Linked DNA regions of Homo sapiens. The protein of the gene in region 1 interacts with the protein of each later gene in a biochemical or structural test. Each region holds a gene or a part of one and is shown on either strand. Other genes may lie near its edges.

Region 1 (7,026 bases):
TGAAAAATTTTCTTTTAACTCCCATATCTCTATCAGGTGAAGTAAAAGGTAGGTGATAGTAGTTACTGGCAGTCTAGAATGGAAGTGAGTTAATGTAATATCCAGCATTTTTATCAAATAATACTCACCAACATCACCTTAACTACCTGAACAGCATCTACCAATGATACCCACAGGTGTCCTGGAGATCTTGAAATCATCTCAGGTAGAGGAAGCTTTCAGAACCACAGAGCTTAGTTACATTTTCTTTCAAAAGGCCAAATTCTCCAAAAACGTCCTATGCAAACATCCTCGATTTCTTCCATAGGTTTTATGATAAGATCTGTAGAATGCAAAATATTGGATTAGACATTAAGCAGTATCCAAGTCATGTATAATCCTATGAGCAGAATGTCCTTTTGTTTCCTTCATGTTGGGGATAAAATTTTTTATTAGTATTGCCATATCATTTTATTCATTCATGATTAAGTCAATAAAAATTTCAGCTGGGGCCATGGTTGGCCAGGTGTGGTGGCTTATGCCTGTAATCTCAGCACTTTGGGAGGCTGAGGTGAGTGGATCACTTGAGGCCAGGAGTTCGAGACCAGCCTGGCTAACATGGTAAAACCCTGTCTCTACTAAATAATACAAAAATTAGCCAGGCGTGGTGGCGCATGCCTTTAGCCCCAGCTACTAGGGAGGCTGAGGCAGGAGAATCACTTGAACCCTGGAGACAGACGTTGCAGTGAGCTGAGATCATGCCACTGCACTCCAGCCTGGGCAACAGAGTGAGATTGTGTCTCGAAAAAAAAAAAAAAATTCCACTGGCTGGGCACAGTGGCTCACGCCTGTAATTCCAGCACTTTGGGAGGCCGAGGTGGGAAGATCACGAGGTCAGGAGATTGAGACCATCCTGGCTAACACGGTGAAACCCCGTCTCTACTAAAAATACAAAAAAAAAAAAAAAAAAGCTGGGCATAGTGGCGTGCGCCTGTAATCCCAGCTACTTGGGAGGGTGAGGCAGGAGAATCACTTGAACCCGGGAGGCAGAGGTTGCAGTAAGCCGAGATTGCACCACTGCACTCCAGCCTGGGTGACAGAGCGAGACTGTCGCAAAAAAAAAAAAAAAAAAAAAAAAATTCCAAAACTCTTCCCACTTTGTGACGTGCAGTTCTCCAGGCACTGGAGCTATAACTGAACAAACAGCCTGAGTCCCTTCCCTCACACAGTTTAAATCCTAGTGGACAGAAGGCAGACCCTAAACCAATATTTAATGTGTCATTTTTTATCTTTTTTCTACATGAGCAACCCAAATACACCCGTTTAGTGCCAGAAATCTCTTTGTGTTTTCACCTCGTTCTGGTTCCTGGTTCTGCCAGTGACAGATGTACAGGGATGCAGCTTCTTCAGGGTTCTGAGATGCTTTCAGTGGGAAAGGGGCGCTTGGATCTACAATAGATAATAGAATTTTCTGTGTTTCTGCTCCCAAAGATGATCCTGCCAGGTACTAAGCTAGTAAATGAACACGCTGAGTTTCTCCTTGCAAATTTAAATAAGTCTTCTGCTTGCTTTTATCATCAAAAAGTCCTAACTCTATACCAAAATATGAGTTTTCTAATTTGCCATACCATAGAAGAAGGGTGTGTATGCAGTAAGTACAAAAGGAAAATAAATGTCTTCCTTTCAGTGAAAGAGCTCTTAGACCCACTGCTTTTTATTCACTGTGCTGCTTGAAGTGAGGTTAGAAAAGGAAAGCTCACTGGGCTAAGAGTCAGGAGACCCAGGTCTAGTCCTGCTTGTGCCGGTCACTATATGGGTGACTTTGGGAAAGTCATTTGCCTCTCCAGAGTTCATTCTCCTCAATTATAAATGAAAATGTTACAACTGAAAATTTATATATTATCAGCTCTAGTATGTTTCTAGTATTGCATTCGTTTCTCCACTTCGTAACTTTCATGGTTTTTCCAGTGGTCAGATTTGGGCAGAAAGCACTGATTCAAGAACACAGATTTCCAAGTAGAGAGGTGCAGGGTAAATAAACCTCCATGTAAGCCCGCGGTGAGCGCAGACTGTGAGTGACGAACACGGTGTCAGTGTAAGCTGGAGGTGGTGGGCCAGGAGGATTAAACAGGGTAAGGCAGCTTACCACTGTGCCTGGCGATGCGCAGAGTAAGTGCTCAGTAAACGGTAGCTGCTGTTATTAGCACTGTTATTATCATTGTCAGCAAAGAACACCTAGACAGCCTTGAGCACTGGAAGGCACCTCAGAGACTGTCACAGGGGTTCCTTGCTAGGATTCCAAGGACCCCAGTTTCAGCAGCTTCACGAACACCCTGAATTGCACACAGATGGCGTGTGTGTGCACATCCTATATTTCTTACACCTTTCAGTAGAGAGGGTCCCTAGTTTCCTTGGCTTCCTCAGAGAAAATGTAACAAATGAGCACAGTGCCTGGTCCAGAGGGTGGCCTACCTTAGGGCCAGGTGTGCTGACGGAGGTACCTTGAGCTGATACTCATTTCCCTCCCTCCTCAGAACTGTCTTCTCAACCACCTTCTCTCTCCTACAAAGATATGCCAAGTGCTCTTTAGGGACAGTACCAACACTTGACAAATTCAGCTCAGCATGAATGTCATTGAGCCCATGCCCCGTACCAAGGCCCAGGCTAGCGAGTGTAAGGAGTACAAAAACAAGTGGGTGTGGTCGCTGCCCTTGGGACTCACATTCTAGTGGAGAAGTCAAACAGACCCAGCTCAGATACAGAGCGGCGCAGGGCAGAGTGCTGAGTCTAGGATTACAGTGCAGGCTCATGGAAGGAGGTGGAATTTGTGCTGGGCCTATGTCAGAAACTCACAAGCAGGGAGAAGCACGTGGGGAGGTCAGCAGTCCAGGCAGAGGCAGGAGCATCATGTCAGCAGATCGGTGGGAAATCTGGTGGGACTGGAGTCTCTGGAGTGGAGACAGGGAGGAAACAGTGAAAGGAAGATCAGAGACAAGAGGGTAGGGCAGAGCTGTGGCTAGCTTCTGAATACTGAACCTGAGAGGTTTGAGTTTATCAGGTAAAGGAGGAGGACCCTTCACAGATGCTGTTCAGAGTCGTGGGATCCCGCTGGGAAGTGTGGCTGAGCTTTGCTGTGTTGTTCATCCACTTCTGTTTTCTGACTTGGTGTTAGCCACATTTTTTTATGGTAAAATTCAAAAACATAAAATTTACCATTTCAACCATTTTTACAGTGGCATTATCTAACATTCACAGTGTTATGCAACCATCACCACCATCTATCTATATAACTGTTTTAATCTTGCAAAACTAAAACTCTGTATCCATTAAACACCAACTCCCCAGCTCCCCTCCCAGCCCCGGACAACCACCATTCTACTCTCTGTTTCTGTGACTCTGACCAGTCTAGGTACCTCATGTGAGTGGAACCATGCAGCATTTTTCTTTGTGGCTGGCTTCATTCACTTAGGAAATGTCCTCAAGCTTCATGCATGTTGTAGCATGTGATGTGATTCCCTTCCTTTTCAAGGCTGACTATTCCATTGTGTAGCTAGACCACAGTTGGGTTATCCACTCATCTGCTCATGGGTGCCTGGCTTACTTCCACCTTTTAGCTATTGTGAATAATGCTGCAGTGAACACGTGGGTAGAAATATTTCTTCAACACCCTGTTTTAGTTCTTTTGGGTATATACTCAGAAACGGAATTGCTGGATCATATGGTAATTCTATCTTTAATTTTTTTGAAGAATCACGATTTTTTTTTTTTTTTTTTTTTGAGACAGACTCTCACTCTATCACCAGGCTGGAGTGCAGTGGCACGATCTTGGCTCACTCTGCAAGCTCCGCCTCCTGGGTTCAAGTGATTCTCCTGCCTCAGCCTCCTGAGTAGCTGGGATTACAGGCACCCACCACCACGCCTGGCTAATTTTTGTATTTTTAGTAGAGAAGGGGTTTCACCATGTTGGCCAGGCTGGTCTTGAACTCCTGACCTCAGGTGATCACCTGCATCAGCCTCCCAAAGTGCTGGGATTACAGGTGTGAGCCACCGCACCTGGCCCACTATACTCTTTATAGGAGCAGCTGCACCATTTCACATTCCCACCAGCAGTGCACAAGGGCTTCATTTTTTCCACATCTTTGTCAATATGTGTTATTTCTTTTTTTTTTTTTAATCATAGGCATCCTAATGGGTATGAGGTGGTTTAGCCAGATTTGAAAGAAGAAAAGTTTAAAGGGTGGCATAGGATAATTAACTTAATGTTTGGCATAAAGCCCTGCTTTTTTGCCATGCTGTATTTTTTTCTCTTGCTTTTGATCTAGAATTACTTACCTGTGTGTTTCTCTCTATGCAGATGAATCTATAAAATATACCATATACAATAGTACTGGCATTCAGATTGGAGCCTACAATTATATGGAGATTGGTGGGACGAGTTCATCACTACTAGACAGCACAAATACGAACTTCAAAGAAGAGCCAGCTGCTAAGTACCAAGCTATCTTTGGTAAGATACCCTGGAAGGACTCAACGCCTAGCAACCTTGAACTTTCTTACTTGTGAGAAGGACATAGTGGAATCTTAAAATTTCTCTGATAATTCTTCTTGAAAGTTTTCTTATGTTACTTCTGCAAAATATCTTTGTAATTTCCATATAATTCCTTTGTCATTTATTTATTTTTAATATGGAGATAATCACAGTATTTAATTTATGGATTTGTTGTGAAAATTAAATGAGTTGATATGTATAAAAAGCTTAGAACACTGCCTGGCACATAGTAAGTTCTATAAAAAGTGTTAAACTTTCATCATCATCATCATCAGTATTACTTCTCAGACCCAGAAGAAATAGCTGTGTCAGGCCCTCATCGAAGGAGATCCTGTAAAAGATAGAAGACTGTGCCCTCCACAGCACTTCTGTAATAAAATCAAGAGGGCTATCTCTTATAGGGTTCTATGGTGCAGCCCATAATGCTAATCCCAAAGTACAGTCTGGAAAAAGTCATGAGGCCAAAACGACTTGATTAAGAACTCAGCTTTCTAATTAACCATGGGATTGGCGCTTTTTTTTTTTTTTTCTGTAAAGGAACCAATAGTAAATGTTAGGCCCTGCTGGCTTTGAGGTCTCTTGGAACTACTCACCTCTCTTATTGTAGTGCAAAAGCAACCACAGACAATATGTACATGAATGAGCACGGCTGTGTTCCAATAAAAGTGGATTTACAAATGCTGGCAGGAGTCAGATTTGGCCCACAGGCCATAGTTGGCCAACCCCTGGTCTAACCCATTTGAAGGACAGCTTTTAAAATACCTAGAACAGAACTTGCGAATGGTCAGGGGCACCTGTGAGAATCTAATGAAACCCAGGATCTACCCCCTACAGAAATATTGACAAAATTTGGAAAATATCTTGGGAAGTTCTTGGACTGCTGACAATCTATAAGATATGGATAGAGAGAGAGCCACATCACAGAGGGCTGAGGAAAGAAGAGAGGTGGGAAGGAAGAATGAAATGTTTTCTTCCTTATATTCTGTTTAATGAGGTAGTGTGGGGATTAAGGAATTTTTTTTGTTGTGGTTGTTGTACATTTTCATTTGTTTCCTTTTATTATTTTTATGAAGGGCGAAGGGAAGGAACCAGTAGAAGGAGAGAGGTTATGGCTATTGGAGAAGAGGCAATGTCGGTCGGCAGTGGGGTGGAGTAAAGGAGGGGTTAGGGTCCAAAAACAGACCTTGAAGAGTATAGTTACCTCGTCGCTTGAAAGACAAGGAAGGCTTTGTAACTGAATGGGTTCACGCCTGCTGGACAATTCCTTGATTAAGTAAGAGGAAAGTGAACTGTTGGGCCGGGGTGGTGGTCAGGAGTTGAGCGGCTTTAACTCTGGCCAGATGTAAGCGGAGAATGTCTAAAAGGAACAAAAATGGTGGTTTTCCCTTTACACCCAGGAAGGTCTAATACCAACAGGATCACTGGCTAAGATTGACTAGAACACCCAACCTCGTAGCCACACAGGGGTTTTGTTCACAGAGCCATCAGCTGTGGCTCAGGGATGTGTCTACTAGGAGGAAGGAATGCCTTATTCTTTTTTGTTTTGTTTTTGAGACAACATCCTGCTCTGTGGCCCAGGCTGAAGTACAGGGGCACAGTCATGGCTCACTGCAGCCTCGAACTCCTGAGTTCAAGTGATCCTCCTGTCTCAGCCTCCTCAGTAACTGGGACTACAGGCATGTGCCACCATACCCAGCTAATTAAAAAAAATTTTTTTTTTGGTAGAGACAGGTTCTTGCTGTGTTGCCCAGGACTGGTCTAGAACTCCCGGGTTCAAGTGATCCTCCTGCCTTGGCCTCCCAAAGTGTTGGGATTATAGGCATGAGCCACCACGCCAGGCCGGGAATGCCCTATTCTAATTCACATAAAGACTCCATGTGGGCTAGCAGGCATGTGAAATGTCTGCCAGTGCATCAACAGCTATATAACTAAGAAGTTATCTTTTTCACTGTCTTCTGGTACTCTTCATTTCACTTGGGTTTTTTAGCAATTCAGGAAGCTGGAATGTTTGAATGGGTTTTAGCTTGATACCTTCTTCTTTTTCCCATTTGGCAGATAATACCACTAGTCTGACGGATAAACACCTGGACCCAATCAGGGAAAATCTGGGAAAGCACTGGAAAAACTGTGCCCGTAAACTGGGCTTCACACAGTCTCAGATTGATGAAATTGACCATGACTATGAGCGAGATGGACTGAAAGAAAAGGTTTACCAGATGCTCCAAAAGTGGGTGATGAGGGAAGGCATAAAGGGAGCCACGGTGGGGAAGCTGGCCCAGGCGCTCCACCAGTGTTCCAGGATCGACCTTCTGAGCAGCTTGATTTACGTCAGCCAGAACTAACCCTGGATGGGCTACGGCAGCTGAAGTGGACGCCTCACTTAGTGGATAACCCCAGAAAGTTGGCTGCCTCAGAGCATTCAGAATTCTGTCCTCACTGATAGGGGTTCTGTGTCTGCAGAAATTTTGTTTCCTGTACTTCATAGCTGGAGAATGGGG
Region 2 (7,026 bases), on another chromosome or scaffold:
TCCTCCACAGTGTCATTACACTCTCTCTCTCTCTCTCTCTCTCTCTCTCTGTGTGTGTGTGTATATATATATATATATATATATATATATATATATAATATTTATTAGCTGACTTCCCAGTATTTTTCCCTATGGCTTCAGAAACTCTTTTAAAAAATACATACTTTCATTCCTACCTTTTTTTTTGGAGATGGAGTTTCGCTCTGTTGCCCAGGATGGAGTGCAATGGCATAATCTCAGTTCACTGCAACCTCCACCTCCTGGGTTCAAGCAATTCTCCTGCCTCAGCCTCCCGAGTAGCTGAGACTACAGGCACATCACACCCGGCTAAGTTTTGTATTTTTAGTAGATGGAGTTTTACTATGTTGGCCAGGCTGGTCTCGAACTCCTGACCTCAGGTGATCTGTCAACCTCGGCCTCTCAAAGTGTTGGGATTACAGGCATGAGCCACTGCACCCAGCCTATTCCTAAAATTCTTATAAAAATTTACACTCTATACTTAAAATTATCTCATACATACTTGGTGGGTCAGCATTTTCTTCTCCAGTGGTATCTGAAGTTGACAACAGCTATGAAACAAGAGAAAAGTTAATAGGTAAAAGCAGATATCCCCAACAATCTGAAAAGAACAACACTAAAATAAGCTTACTTTAAGTAAATGTATATGTTCTTTTGAGAACTGAGTGATTTATGACCTTTGCTTTGCTTTCTTTTACCCTAATCACATAGATTTCCTTAAATTTCATGTCATCCCAAATTAGAAATCAAGTATTTCTCTAGTTTCAGGAAAGTAGAAAAATGTATCAGTGGTTTCTCATTTCATTTGGAAAATAAGATTTTAACTGGGTTACTCTCCAAGGGTCTCAGCTCCTAACAAGTTATTTTTTGTTTGTTTTTCTGGAAAACAGCAAAGAGACACTAAAGATCCTTCTCCAATCCCATCACAAATTTGTACAGTGGCAGCATAAATGATTTTTCAAAATAGTAAAAACAAAAAAACAATCTTTTTTAAAAAGCCCTCAAAAATCAAGTTGGTTACAAAAGTAAAAACCAAAGATGTCATTAACATGGATGAAAGTATGTACCTACAATTAATAAAAGAGAAATAAGCATAACTTCTAATATAGGTTGGTACAAAAGTGATCACGGTTTTGGCCATGACTTTCAATGGCAAAAATCATGATCACTTTTATACCAACCTAATAATATTTTTGTTATTATAAAGCAGAATTCAATGTTGTTAATTTTAAAAATGTATTTACCTGTTCAAGAAGATGAGGATATCTACCTTGAATCTCATCAACAAACTCTTGGCCTTTCATTCGTATCAAGAACTCACACCTAAAACATATGAGGAAAATTATTTTTTAAAATTGTTTCATATCAAATATAACCTGATCATTCTAGAAAAATGGCTTTCAAATCTTTCATTGTACTCCATAGTAAAAACATTTTACGTCACAACCCAGAACACATACATATCTAACAGGAACAAAATTATCATAAAACAATATACATCCTTCTGTGTGTTATATATCACGGTATTTTCTAATTCAATCCATTAACACAACAACAAAAAGAAAAGCGTCTGCACCTACAAAGGGGAACAAGTTGACTCCTGAAGAACACTATTATACACAATCTATTTTGTGCTTAAAGTGAACTACTTAACAGTTTCAGATACTATTAACTCAGTATTCCTAAAATGTGATCTTTCACAATACAATAACTGCTCATTTTTCTTCAATGTTCACTCTTCCATTACATTTGAGCCAGAATCCACTACCTTCCCTCCAAAAAATATGGAATCAAATATTTTTATCTATATATAATATGACAGTGTTTCTCAAATATTTGTTTTTAAACTGATAGGGCTTCTCAAAGATGTTCCAAGAAGTTCACATACCATCTATATCTATTCTATTCCTTTTGTTTCTTCAATAAATGATACTATACAACAGAATATTCATATGTTAAAAAAAAGGAACACTGACCTATGCCCATATTATATGCAAAAATAGTAAAAATGGATCATATACCTAAATATAAAACCAAAAACAATAAAACTTCTAGGAAAAAGCCTTGTCTTTATTTGTCTTTACATTGGGTAAAGAATTATTAGACAAAAGACCAAAAACATATTCCACAAAAGATAAAATTGATAAATTGACATCATCAAAATTGAAAACATCTGCTCTTCAAAAGACAATGTTAAAGAAATGAAAAGCCGCAGACTGAAAGTTTGCAAGAGTGACATCAGCAAGACAGCAGACTAGGAGACATCAGCCTTCTTCCACCCACAAAAAACAACAAACAGACAGCTATACACAAATACAGCTCTGGAAGAACTCACTAGCCCAATCAGCCTACAGCAATAAAGGGAAAAAAAAAAAAAAGGGAGAATAACCACACAGAAAGGACTGCTGGGAGATCTGCTTAGCAGAGACATCTGGAGATGGCTAAGAACAAGGGGTGAGGGCTACCTGTATCAGTCATGTGGTGAGTGCCATTACAGTCCTCAGTGGCAAAGACTGCTAGGCTCCTCCCCAGAGCAGGTCCCTGGAGACCTCCAATAACCCTCAAGATAGCCACAGACTTCCTGCAGGTTTCACAGTGAAGGACCCTATAGTGTTCATTGATGCCAACCCCAGTAGCCTACTTTGCAGAGGACACTGACAGCTTTCACCATTAAGGTAACCAGCACCCATTGCTGCTGTGAACCCCCTGGAGAGGGAGACACTACTGCACTCCTCACCCTGAAAAAAAGCAGCTCTTGCACTGCCCAGACAGTGCAGCCCCTAACCCCCACATATGCCCCAGACCCCAGAGCCACAGCTGCTTCACATGTACCTTCATGTAAGACCTTTGCTCTGTGGCTGCTCTAATCACACACTCTCCAGATCCCAGCTCTCTGGCTGCTCTGCACACCTGCACTCCGCACCCAACTCAAAGGCTGCTCTACGTGCACCCACATCTGAGGCACTAGAAGCACCACTGCTGCAGGCTAGTCAACATCCTGAACCCAAGACCCGCTGTCTTTCTGCAAACACTTGCACTCCAAACCTTGGCTCTGTAGCTGCTCCACAGGTGTCCACGCCATCAGAGACATCAGTGCTGCCACCTCCACCAACACAACAAGCCCAAAGCCAGAACCTGTGCCAAGAAGAATCCCCTTGGCCACAATGTCTCCCATGGGAGAAAAAGTGATGAAGAGGTCCCCAGCAGCCTCTGCCACTATAGACTAAAAAAAGCCTTGCTGCTGGTATGGATACCTGCAGCCTTGGATGTTGAGGACCCCTGCAATCCTCACTGACAATGATCTGGGCTAATGGAGCTGCATGGAGTTCACAATGCTGGGCCTTCCACAGAGCCAGAACCACCACACCTACTGGCTGGCGCCCTCACCCTCACCCTCACCCACAGGCAAAGATCTTTGCCCACAAAAAAAAAAACAAAAAAAACACACTAATCTGTAATGTCTAGAAGTAATTCGTCCATCAAATACACAGATAACACAAGGCCACAAGAAACAGAAAGAAAAAAAAAAAAAGAAACGTGACATTAGCAAAGAAACTCAGTAATTTTCCAGTAATCACCCACAAAGAAATGGAGATCTATGAACTAACAGATAAAGAATTCAAAATAATTGTTTCAAGCAAACTCAGTGAGCTACAAAAGAACACAGATAATGAAATAAAAAAATATATACAAACAAATGAGAAATTCAACACAGAGATAGGAATAATAAAAAGAAACAAATTCGGGAGCTGAAGAACATAACAACAAAAAATGCAATAGAGAGCATCAATAGCAGACCTGATCAAGCAGAAGAACCTGTGAACTCAAAGGCAGATCATGTGAAATTATCTAGTCAGAGGAGAAAAAAAGAAAAAAAAAAGAATAGTGGAGAAAGCCTACCTGAATTATAGGACACCATCAAGCAAAACAATATTTGCATTTTAAGAATTCAAGGCCAGGCACGATGGCTCACACCTGTAATCCAGCACTTTGGGAGGTTGAGGCGGGTGGATCACATGAAGTCAGGGGTTCAAGACCAGCCTGGCCAACATGGCAAAACCCCGTCTCTACTAAAAATACAAAAATTAGCTGGGCATGGTGGTGCACACCTGTAGTCCCAGCTACGTGGGAGGCTGAGGCAGGAGAATCACTTGAACCTGGGAGGTGGAGGTTGCAGTGAGCTGAGATCATGCCACTGCACTCCAGCCTGGGTGACAGAACAAGACACCATCAAAAAAAAAAACCCAAGAAAATGAAAAACAAACCCGAGAATTCAAGAAGGAAAAGAGAGAAAGGACAGAAAGCTGATTTAAAAAAAAAATGCTGAAAACTTCATAAATCTAGGGAAAGATATCCAGGTACAGGAAGTTCATAGGACCCCATAAAGATTCAACCCAAAGAAGACTTCACTGACACACATTATAATGAACTGGCAAAAATAGAAGATGAAAGAGAATTTTAAAACTGTAACAGAAAAGAAACTCATCTTCTACAAGAGAAACCCTATAAGACCACAAGTGGATTTCTCTGCAAAAACCTTGTAGGCCAGGAGAGAGTTGGATGATATATTCAAAGTGCTGAAAGACAAAACTACCAGACAAGAATATGTATCCCAGCAAAGCTGTCCTTCAGAAATGAAAGAGATATAAACAGTCCCAGACAAACAAAAGCTGAGGGAGTTTATCACCACTGGACGCGCCTTACAAGAAACGCTGAAGAGTTCTCCAAGCTGAAATGAAAGGACACTAATTAGCAACATGGAAACATATGAAAGTATGAAACTCACTGTTAAGATAAATATATAATCAAATTAATAATATACTAAATTTGTAATGGTCATGTGTAAATTACTTAATTCTAAAATACAGGTTTTTAAAAAAAAGTATTAAAAATAACTATAGCTTCAATAATTTTTTCATGAATACACAATATAAAATGCAAATAATGACATCAAAAACATAAAATATGTGCAGGAGGGTCTGAGTAACAGTACAGTTTTTTAATGCAATTGAAATTAAGTTGTTAGTGCTTGAAACAGACTACTATAACTATAAGATGTTCTATGTAAACCTCATGATAGCCACAAAGTAGAAACCAATAGTAGATGCACAAAAGATATAAAGGAATCAAAGCATACCACCACAGAAAATCATCTAAACACAAGGGAAGACAGCAAGAGAGGAAGAAACAAATAATCTGCCAAACAATCAGAAAACAATTACAAAATGACAGAAGTCTTTACCCATCAATAGTTACCTTGAATGTAAATGGGCCAAATTCTCCTATCAAAAGATAAAGAGCAGCTGAATGGATAAAGAAAACAAGATTCAGCTACAGGTTGTCTACAAGAGACTCAATTCACCTTTAAGCACATGCATGGGTATAGGAAAAAAGATATTCCATGCAAATGGAAACCAAAAGAGAGCAGAGGAAGCTAAAGTTTTATCAGATAGGGCAGACTTTACATCAAAAACTGTAAAAAGAGTCAGAGAAAGTAATTATATAATGAGAAAGGGGCCAATTCCACAAGAGGATACAGTATCTGTAAATATATATATGTACCCAACATCAGACCACCTAAATAAACAGAGAAAATATTAACAGATCTGAAGACATTAATAGATAGTAACACAATAATACTAGAAGACTTCAAAAATCCTACTTTCAATAATGGATGGGTCATCCAGACAGAAAATCAGTAAGGAAATATTGGACTTCAACTATACACTGGATCTAATGGATCTAACATACAGGTTGAATATTCCTTATCTGAAATGCTTGGGACTAGAAGTGTTTTGAATTTTACATTTTTTAGATTTGGGAATACCTGCCTTATGTTTACCAGCTGAGCATCCCTAATCCAAAAATGCAAAACCAAAAATGTTCCAAAGAGCATTTCCTTTCAGCATCATGTTGGTACTCAAAAAGTTTTAAATTTTGGAACATTTTGGATTTTGGATTTTTGGATTGGGGATACTCAACCTTTATACAGAACATTCCATCAAACAGCAGATAATACACATTCTTCTTAAGCACACAAGAAAAATTATCCAGCGTAGATCATGCAGCAGGTCACAAAACAAGACTCAACAAACTGAGGAAGACTGAAATCCTATCAAGTATCTTTTCAGACCACAATGGTATGTAACCAGAAATCAATAACAGAATGAAAGTTGGAAAGCTGACAACTATGTGGAAATTGAACAAAATACTCCTGAATAATCAATGGGTCAAAGAAGAAATCAAAAAGAAAATTTTAAAAAATCACAAGAAATATTAAAATTGAAATGCGACATAGCAAAATGTATAGAACAAATGCAGTTCTAAAAGGAAAGTTTATAGCAATAATCGCCTATATTTAAAAAAAATCTTAAATAAACACCGTAATTTTACATCTAAAGGAACTAGAAAAAGTTAGCAGAAGGAAATAACAAAATCTCATGAAATAGAGACTACAAAAACAATAGAAAAGACCACTAAAACTAAGAGCTGGATTTTGAAAAGATAAGTAAAATCAACAAAGCTTTAGTTTGACTAGTAAAAAGGAAGACGAAAATAAATAAAATCAAAACCAAGAGATGTTACCATTGATAACACAGAAACGCAAATGACCATAAGAGACTACCATGAACAATTATTCACCAAAAAACTGTATAACCTAGAAGAAATGGATGCATTCCTAGAAACTTGTAATTTATCAAGACTAAAATAAAGAAGAAATAGAAGATCTGAAAAGACTTATAACTAGTAAGGAGATTGAATCAGTAGTCATAACTCTTCTGACAAAGAAAAAGCCCAGGAACAGATGACCTCATAGCACAGTTCTATCAAGAAGAAGAAAGAAGAAGAAAGGAAGAGGAGGAGAAGAAGGAAGAGGAGGAGGAGGAGGAAAGAAGGAGGAAGAAGAAAGAAAAGGGAGGAGGAGGAAGAAGGAAGAAGAGGGAGGGAAGAGGGAGTAAGGAGGGAGGAGGGGGGAATACTTCCAAACTCATTTTATGAAGCCAAGCA
Region 3 (7,127 bases), on another chromosome or scaffold:
AAAAATCACAAAATGTTACAAAATAAAAAAAGTACAAACTGCATTACTTAATAAATATGACTAAAAGTAGTTAAAGTGGCAATGAGATTGATTTTAAGTTGGAAACATTGTTTGACCCAGCAAACCATACAAGCTCTGTTTACAGACATTTCTACATCAATACAGGGCAATCCTATTTTGCCTTTTGAAAGAATGTAAAGAAATATTAAGACAGTGTTCTCCTGCTATAACTGCCAAGGTTGGCTCCAGACATTTATGCCATTAGTTTATAAATCTCTTAGCTGGATTCAAGAAGTTATATAAAGCAGGAGGCTTATCTTGTCACAGAGTTTTATACCATGTTAACATTCTCTTACAACAACGTGACAAATGTAAATAAAAACAACTGAGAGCACCAGACAATCTACTCTACACATCAACCAGGGTACAGAATAATCATTCTGCCATCAGCAAATATCAGACTTTCATTCAAGTAAGACCTGCTACTATCCCTTAAAAGAGGAAAAACAAAACAAAAACCAAAAAAAAAACACAAAAAAACACCTTCCCACAACCTTCCATTAAGTAATTTTCTTTAAAAGATTCGCCATTTCTAGAAAAATAATGACTTCCAAAACAACAGCTCTGTTTCATCAAAATGGAATGGGCCAAACATCTGGTAACAAGAATGCATCAATATCCATTTGAAATAATTATCTAAGAATTGTGAAATTCAAATTTCAACAACATAAAATAACTACCAAATCACAAACTCTGTTCAAAATAATACATTTCATATAAAGCACTTCTCTGGATTTACGCCTGAAAGCTGTTTGTCAAAATGGAACACGTCATAGATGAAGGTACACCAGTTTTTAAAAATGTTGTGCAAAAATACATTTTTATAGAAAATAGACTACCAGGAATGAACAAATTTACACTGTGAGAAATCAGCTTGCAAATTAAGTAATGCTCACTTTATACAGCAAATTATAAATAGCAGTAAAATCACCCAAAGCTATCATGAAACATCATTTAGGTGCCCAGCAACCTCCAGCTCTGAGAAAACATTCAAAAAGATGATTAAGGCATTACACCTACAGTAAAATCTACTAGCAAGTTTGAAAGTGCTATTACCCTGATTAAAGTTCATGTGATTCTCCAAACACAAGTTATATATGCAATTATTCCCAGGGTGTAAGGTTTTGAGACATTTCAAGAGCATGCATTTTGTTCAATATACATTTTAGACAAGGATATGGCCATAGATTTGGCAAGTTCTTCGTCGCGTTTCCTTTGCACTTGAGTTTGTTTGCACCAGTTGTCGTACTCTGGGTTAGGATAGGAGTGATCAAATACAGCATCATAGTGTCCGTTACTGAGCCAACTGAGCCAAATACTAGGCCTCAGGGAATCCTCTGGGCCCAAATAATGAATCATGGTAGACACCGTGGGACTCTCCAGCCTCCCTCCAGTAGTTAAATGGATATTCACATTCAGCATCTGCCCCATGGCCAGCAACTCCGGGTACCCGGCCCATGCCCCGTCTTGGGCAGCAGCGATGATAAACTCCCCCACGTCGCCCTCAATCAGGGGGCTGAAGTGGTCGAGATGGTCGGCGATGTAGTGCACCGTCTGCTCCCTCAACTCCCGGTGCAGGCTCTGGTCCCCATACACCGTCTTGCTGACAGCTCGGTAGAGGCAGTTGCCGTCTGGAATGATGTGGAATCGGTACTTATTCCTCTGCCGCAGATACTTGTCCTGCTTCTCCACCTCGGCCAGGTATAGGGCCAGCTTCTCGTCTCTGGGATCCGACCTGGAGACGATCACCGGCTCCGCCGCACTACTCGGGGCGGCCTCGATGCTCCCGGCGGGGGGTGCCTCGGCCTCTGGGTCGGGCCTCCGCGCCGCGTCCCCACCGGGCGCGTCGCAGCGATCGCCGCCCCTCTCCCAGCCCCTGGGGCCCCTCTCCGCCAAGTGCTCTTCGCCCCACGGACCGGGGCCGGGATCGGGGCTCCCCGGGGTCGCCGCGGGGCCTCGGTGCTTGGCGGCGGCCAGGGCCTGGCGGTGCTCGCTCAGTCGGAAGTTCCGATCGGGCCCCTCCCGTGTCGCGTCCAAGCCCGCGGGCTCGGGGCAGTCGGGCCGCAGCAGCTCCTCCAGGAGCCAGGCCGAGGAGCCCCGCCGCGGCGGGACCGGGGCTGCGGGCGCCGGGGCGAGCAGGAGGCAGCGGCCGCGCGGGGCAGCGGCGGAGCCCGCGGCGCCGGGAACGGGATCGGGCCCGTGCAGCAGGAGCCTGTCGGCGCCCAGGGCCCGCACGGTGATCTGTGCGGTGGACGTGTAGTGCGGCGGCAGCGGCGGCTTGCAGGACGCGCCGGGCGGGCCGGCGGCGGCGGAGGCGGGCGCGGCGGCCCCGGACACCACCTCGAAGCAGGAGGAGAAGGCGGGCATCTTGGCGGCGGGGACAGCGGCGGCTTCCCGGTGCTCGGCGGCCGCGGCGGGCTGGCACTCACCGGTCTCGGGCTCGGGCGCGGCGCCGGCGGCTCCCGGGGGCTGCAGCGAGACCTTGAAGGGGGTAGCGGCGGCGGGTGGCGCGGGGGCGGCGGCCGTGGGACCCGGGGCCCCGGCGGGGTAGTGGGTGCAGACGCTGCTGTAGAGCTGCATGTCCCTGCCCGCCGCTCGGCCCCTTATAGGCGCGGCGAGCCCCGGAGCGGGGGACACACCCTCCGGGCCCGGGGGAGGGGGCCGGCGGAGCGCGGTGACCCAACGGCCCCAGAATAGAGATGAGCGAAAGGCAGCCGGCCGCCGCGAGTCAGCAGCCGCGAATAGCGCCCGGGTCCCGGCCAAATTCCTGCTGCGCCACAGCGCAGGGGGGCGGGGACGGGACGCGAGCTCGACCCCTGCCGGTGCGCTCGGCCCGCAGACCCGGGGCGCCGCGCCCGCTGCAGCTGCTTCGGCCCGCGGCGGCCGCTGGGGACTCACGGAGGAAGCCGCCCGCCCCGTTGGAGCGCGTCCCGCCGGCGAGGAGGAGCGCGGTGCGCGCGGAGGCCCGGGAGGCGGGGCCGCGGTTGTTTACCTCAGGCCTCGCGGCCGCGTCACGTGGACTCACTGGAATGCGCGGCTCTTTGCGGCGCCCGATTCAGTCGCGCCTGCTCGCCCCGCCCACTCCGGCCCGCGCCCCGCCCCCTACCGCGCTCCGCCGACGTCACGGGCGTGGCCCTCGGCGCGCGAGCGCGCGCGGGCGGGGCGAGGCCGGGGGCGCGGAGGCCTGAGCAGTCCTGGGATCCTGGCTGGGCCTCCCGCCCACGTGACTCCCACGGACCGCTTCCCCCACCTGGGCACTGGGCACTGGTTTCTGCGCTGCGCCACTCTCCTCAGCGGCTGCAGTGGATGCTGCGGGATGGGAGCTGCTTGGGGCGAGTTAGCATGCTCGGAAAGCTTGCGTGGCAGGAAAGCTTCCGGCATGGGTGTGGAGAACGGAATGCTGCCTTAAAGTCTGTTTGGCCTCTGCTGGTCATGGGCTACCATCCCTGCTTGCATTCACTACTGCCTCTTTTCTTTTATCTTTTTAGAGATGGGGGTCTTACCTGTCTCCGAAGCTAGAGTGTAGTGGCGCAGTCCATAGCTCACTGCAGCCTTGACTTCCCGGGCTCAAGCGATCCTCCCGCCTCAACCTCCAGAGTAACTGGAAACCACAGGTGTGCACCACCGCACCCGGCTAATTTTCTTTCTTTCTTTCTTTCTTTTTTTTTAAGGCGAGGGTCTCACCACAGTTGCCCAGTCTGGTGTCGAACTACTGGCCTCAAGCTGTTTCCCGCCTCGACCTCCTAAAGTGTTGGGATTATGGGTCCTAGCCACCACTCGTGGAACCGCCGCGTCTTTTCCTTTTTTTTTTTTTCTTTTTCTTTTTGAGGCAAGGTCTTGCTCTGCCTTCCAGGCTGAGTGCAGTGGCGCCATCATGTCCCACTGCGACCTCGACCTCCAGGGCCCAAGTGATCCCCCTTCCTCAGCCTTGCCTTGGGCAGGGATTACAGGTGCCCAGCTAGTTTTACCACTGTGTCTTTTCTATGCATTTCCTTGGACTCACCGGTAAGGGTGAGTCCGCTAGTGGATTCTCTTGCCTTGCTAAGACAAAACCAACTTTGCACCTCTGACCTATGCCATTTGGCAAATATCTGGCTTGGGGGAAAGCAAGGAAGCCTTTTAGGCTTTTATAAACAAGCTTTCTCAGAATACCAAATGCAGTATCACTTAGGGCCCTTTGAGAATAGGTGTGAATGCTAGCCAGAGGTCAAAAGCGGTGGAGAAAGTCGTGACCTGCATTCCGGGGCAAGATAGACTATAGAAAATACTTCTACCGAGTCTTTTTGTAATACCCGCCTTTGTAAGGGAAAGCCAGAGGTAGTGGGAGACTTTTGCTATATTCTGAGCTGTGATCAAATGCTAAATTAACAGGGCCTAAACATTCGAATTGAACCCAGAGGTTGTCCTAACATTTTAGAGATAGGGAGACTGAACCTGTAGGTGATGTAGGCTGTACTCCGGTCCCCACCTTTCCGGTGGAATGTGAATTCCAGGAATTGAGAGACTTGGGTCTTGCTCTTATATTTCCATCCCCTAACACCGTGCTTGGCACATAATTGGACCTAATTAATATTTACTAAGTGAATGAGTAGATGGAAAGCGAGTTTCCAAGGTTTGTCAGACAGTGGTGAAGCCAAGATTACTATCCAGGTCCCTTGACCCTAGCCAGGGCTTTTAATTATCTTTGGGCAGTATGACTGGCAGGGTCCCAGCTCAGGTCACTCCAGCCGCTTATGTAAATTAACTCAGAAGAAGGTAAATGACTGTCTAACTTTTCAAATTCTGGTAACTACCCCATTGGGAGCTTGAAGCTCTCATGGCTAATTAGAAAAAGGAAATTACCATCCTTGGATTTCATCACTGATTTGTTGAGCATCTGTTGCTCTGTGCATGAAGCACTTCACGCTTAACTCTTTCATTAGCTGGTGTTCTGAAACAGAAGACAAGACTGTTAACAAGGCCGTCACCAAATAATATTTACCATACCCACCACGTGCCTGGCAGGACTAGCATAACTGGAGCCTGAAGGGAGATAAGGAAAATATTAGAATTTAAACCCTAAAGCAAGAGTAGATATTAACAGGTTGGGGTAAATGCAGAAAACAGCAACAACAACAACAAAACACTAGGTCCACAGAAGACACACTACCTCTGATGTACCAAGTTAGCAGCAGACAAAAACAAAGAGGTGAAGATTTGAAACATTAACATATGAATGCATTTTTAAAAATCTTTTTAGTTTGTCTGGGGGCAGTGGACTATGCAAGACTGTGTATTGGCAGTAGGAATCCTTGTCCACTCTGTATCTCAATGTGGAAAGGCTTCCTGGAGGAGGTGGTACTTCAGGAAACCTTCAAAGCAGAAATGATAGCAGCTTTGGAACTGGATGTTGTTTTTGGCCCTTGGAAGCTAAGAGAAGACAAGGCCTTGCAGGTGACAGCAAAGAGATTAGGGAGGCAAATCTGATTTCTCGTGAGTTCAAATAATTATCTATAATGTAATTATGTAATTAAAATTAATATGCATGAAAATTGCTACATGATCAGAACGATTGAAGAGTATAAGTTTTCAGGAAGTGAGTTGTTTTTATTCTGATGGTTTCCGTGACTGTTTTCCCTTCCTCAACTGTAAGCTCCTCAGAAGGATCCCAAAACTTAGCATAGAATAACTTGTAACGTTTTTGCTATATACTGTATATTAAAACATGGGAAGACTATAAATGTGATTTTTTAAAAAAAACTGTGCAAAGAAGCTGAATCCTGTGTCTTTAGATAAACATTAAATACATCCAATTAAGCTAGAAAAAACAATTCCTAGGCTAGGAGCCATGGCTCATGCATATAATCCCAGTACTTTGGGAAGCTGAGGCAGGAGGATCACTTGACCCCTGGAGTTTAAGAGCAGCCGAGGCAACATAGCAAGACCCTGTCTCTACAAAAAATAAAAAATAAAAGAATTAGCCTGGCATGGTGGCACATGCCTGTAGTCCCAGCTTCCTGGAAGGCTGAGGGGGAATAATTGCTTGAGCTCAAGAGTTTGAGGTTGCAGAGAGCCATGACCACACAATTGCACTTTAGCCTGGGTGACAGAATGAGGCCCTGTATCAAGGGAAAAAAAAGAAAAGACAGACAGACAGTAGCAAGTGTTGGAGAAAATGTGAAGTTAAAATCTTCATACGTTGCCTGTGAGATTGTAAAATGACGCAGATACTTTTTAAACAGCTTAGCAGTTCCTCAAAATGTTACACATAGAGTTAACCATATGATCCAGTAATTCCACTTCTAGGTATATAACCAAGAAAAATAAGAACATATCTCCATACAAAAACTTGTATATCAATATTCATAGTAGTAGTATTCATAATATCCAAAGAGTAAAAACTACCCACATATCCATCAAATGATGAATGGATAAACCAAGTGTGATACATTCAGACAATGGAATATTATTCAGCCATGAACAAAATGAAGACACATGCTACAATATGGATGAATCTTCAAAACAGGCTAAGTGAAGAAAGCCAGATGCAAAAGGTCACATACTGTATAATTCCAGTTATATGAAATGTCTAGAATAGAGAATAGGCTGAGGTGAGGAGGGAATGTGGAGTGACTGCCAAAGGGCGTGGGTTTCTTTTGGAGTGATCAAAATGGTTTGAAAATAGCTTATGGCTGTTCGAGGGGCTCATGCTTATAATCCCAGCACTTTGGAAGGCCAGGGTGGGTAGATCACTTGAGTGCAGTAGTTTGAGACCAGCCTGGGGAACATGGCAAAACCCCATCCCTACAAAAAATACAAAAGTTAGCCAGGCATTGTGGCACACACCTGTAATCCCAGATGCTTGGGAGGCTGAGTTGGGAGGATCCACTGATGCTGGGAGTTTGAGGCTGCAGTGAGCTGTGATTGTGCCACTGCACTCCAGCCTGGGTGACAGAGGAGACCCTATCTCAACAAAAAAAGAGAGAAAGAAAGAAAAAAGAAAATGGGTTATGGCAGGGCAAGGTGGTTTATGCTTGTAATCCCAGCACTTTGGGAGGCTGAGGCAGGAGAATCACTTGAGCCCAGGA

Evidence for each region. The genes of interacting proteins can lie anywhere in the genome.
Region 2: of the proteins of RIPK1 (region 1) and BIRC2, one has a biochemical effect on the other in vitro, tested with the Homo sapiens proteins (6 studies listed by BioGRID, with this or other methods).
Region 3: of the proteins of RIPK1 (region 1) and OTUD1, one has a biochemical effect on the other in vitro, tested with the Homo sapiens proteins (2 studies listed by BioGRID).

Annotation. Positions count from the first base shown.
Region 1 is NC_000006.12:3,106,470-3,113,495, forward strand, and holds part of RIPK1 (receptor-interacting serine/threonine-protein kinase 1), read left to right. Parts: exon of another isoform or gene 1-322; intron 323-1,332; exon of another isoform or gene 1,333-1,428; intron 1,429-2,832; exon of another isoform or gene 2,833-2,927; intron 2,928-4,333; coding exon 4,334-4,486; intron 4,487-6,583; coding exon 6,584-6,870; 3' UTR 6,871-7,026. UniProt on the Homo sapiens protein: Serine-threonine kinase which is a key regulator of TNF-mediated apoptosis, necroptosis and inflammatory pathways.
Region 2 is NC_000011.10:102,357,211-102,364,236, reverse strand, and holds part of BIRC2 (baculoviral IAP repeat-containing protein 2), read right to left. Parts: intron 1,342-7,026; coding exon 1,263-1,341; intron 570-1,262; coding exon 521-569; intron 1-520. UniProt on the Homo sapiens protein: Multi-functional protein which regulates not only caspases and apoptosis, but also modulates inflammatory signaling and immunity, mitogenic kinase signaling, and cell proliferation, as well as cell invasion and metastasis.
Region 3 is NC_000010.11:23,434,971-23,442,097, reverse strand, and holds the start of OTUD1 (OTU domain-containing protein 1), read right to left. Parts: upstream 3,024-7,127; 5' UTR 2,641-3,023; coding exon 1,195-2,640; 3' UTR 1-1,194. UniProt on the Homo sapiens protein: Deubiquitinating enzyme that specifically hydrolyzes 'Lys-63'-linked polyubiquitin to monoubiquitin.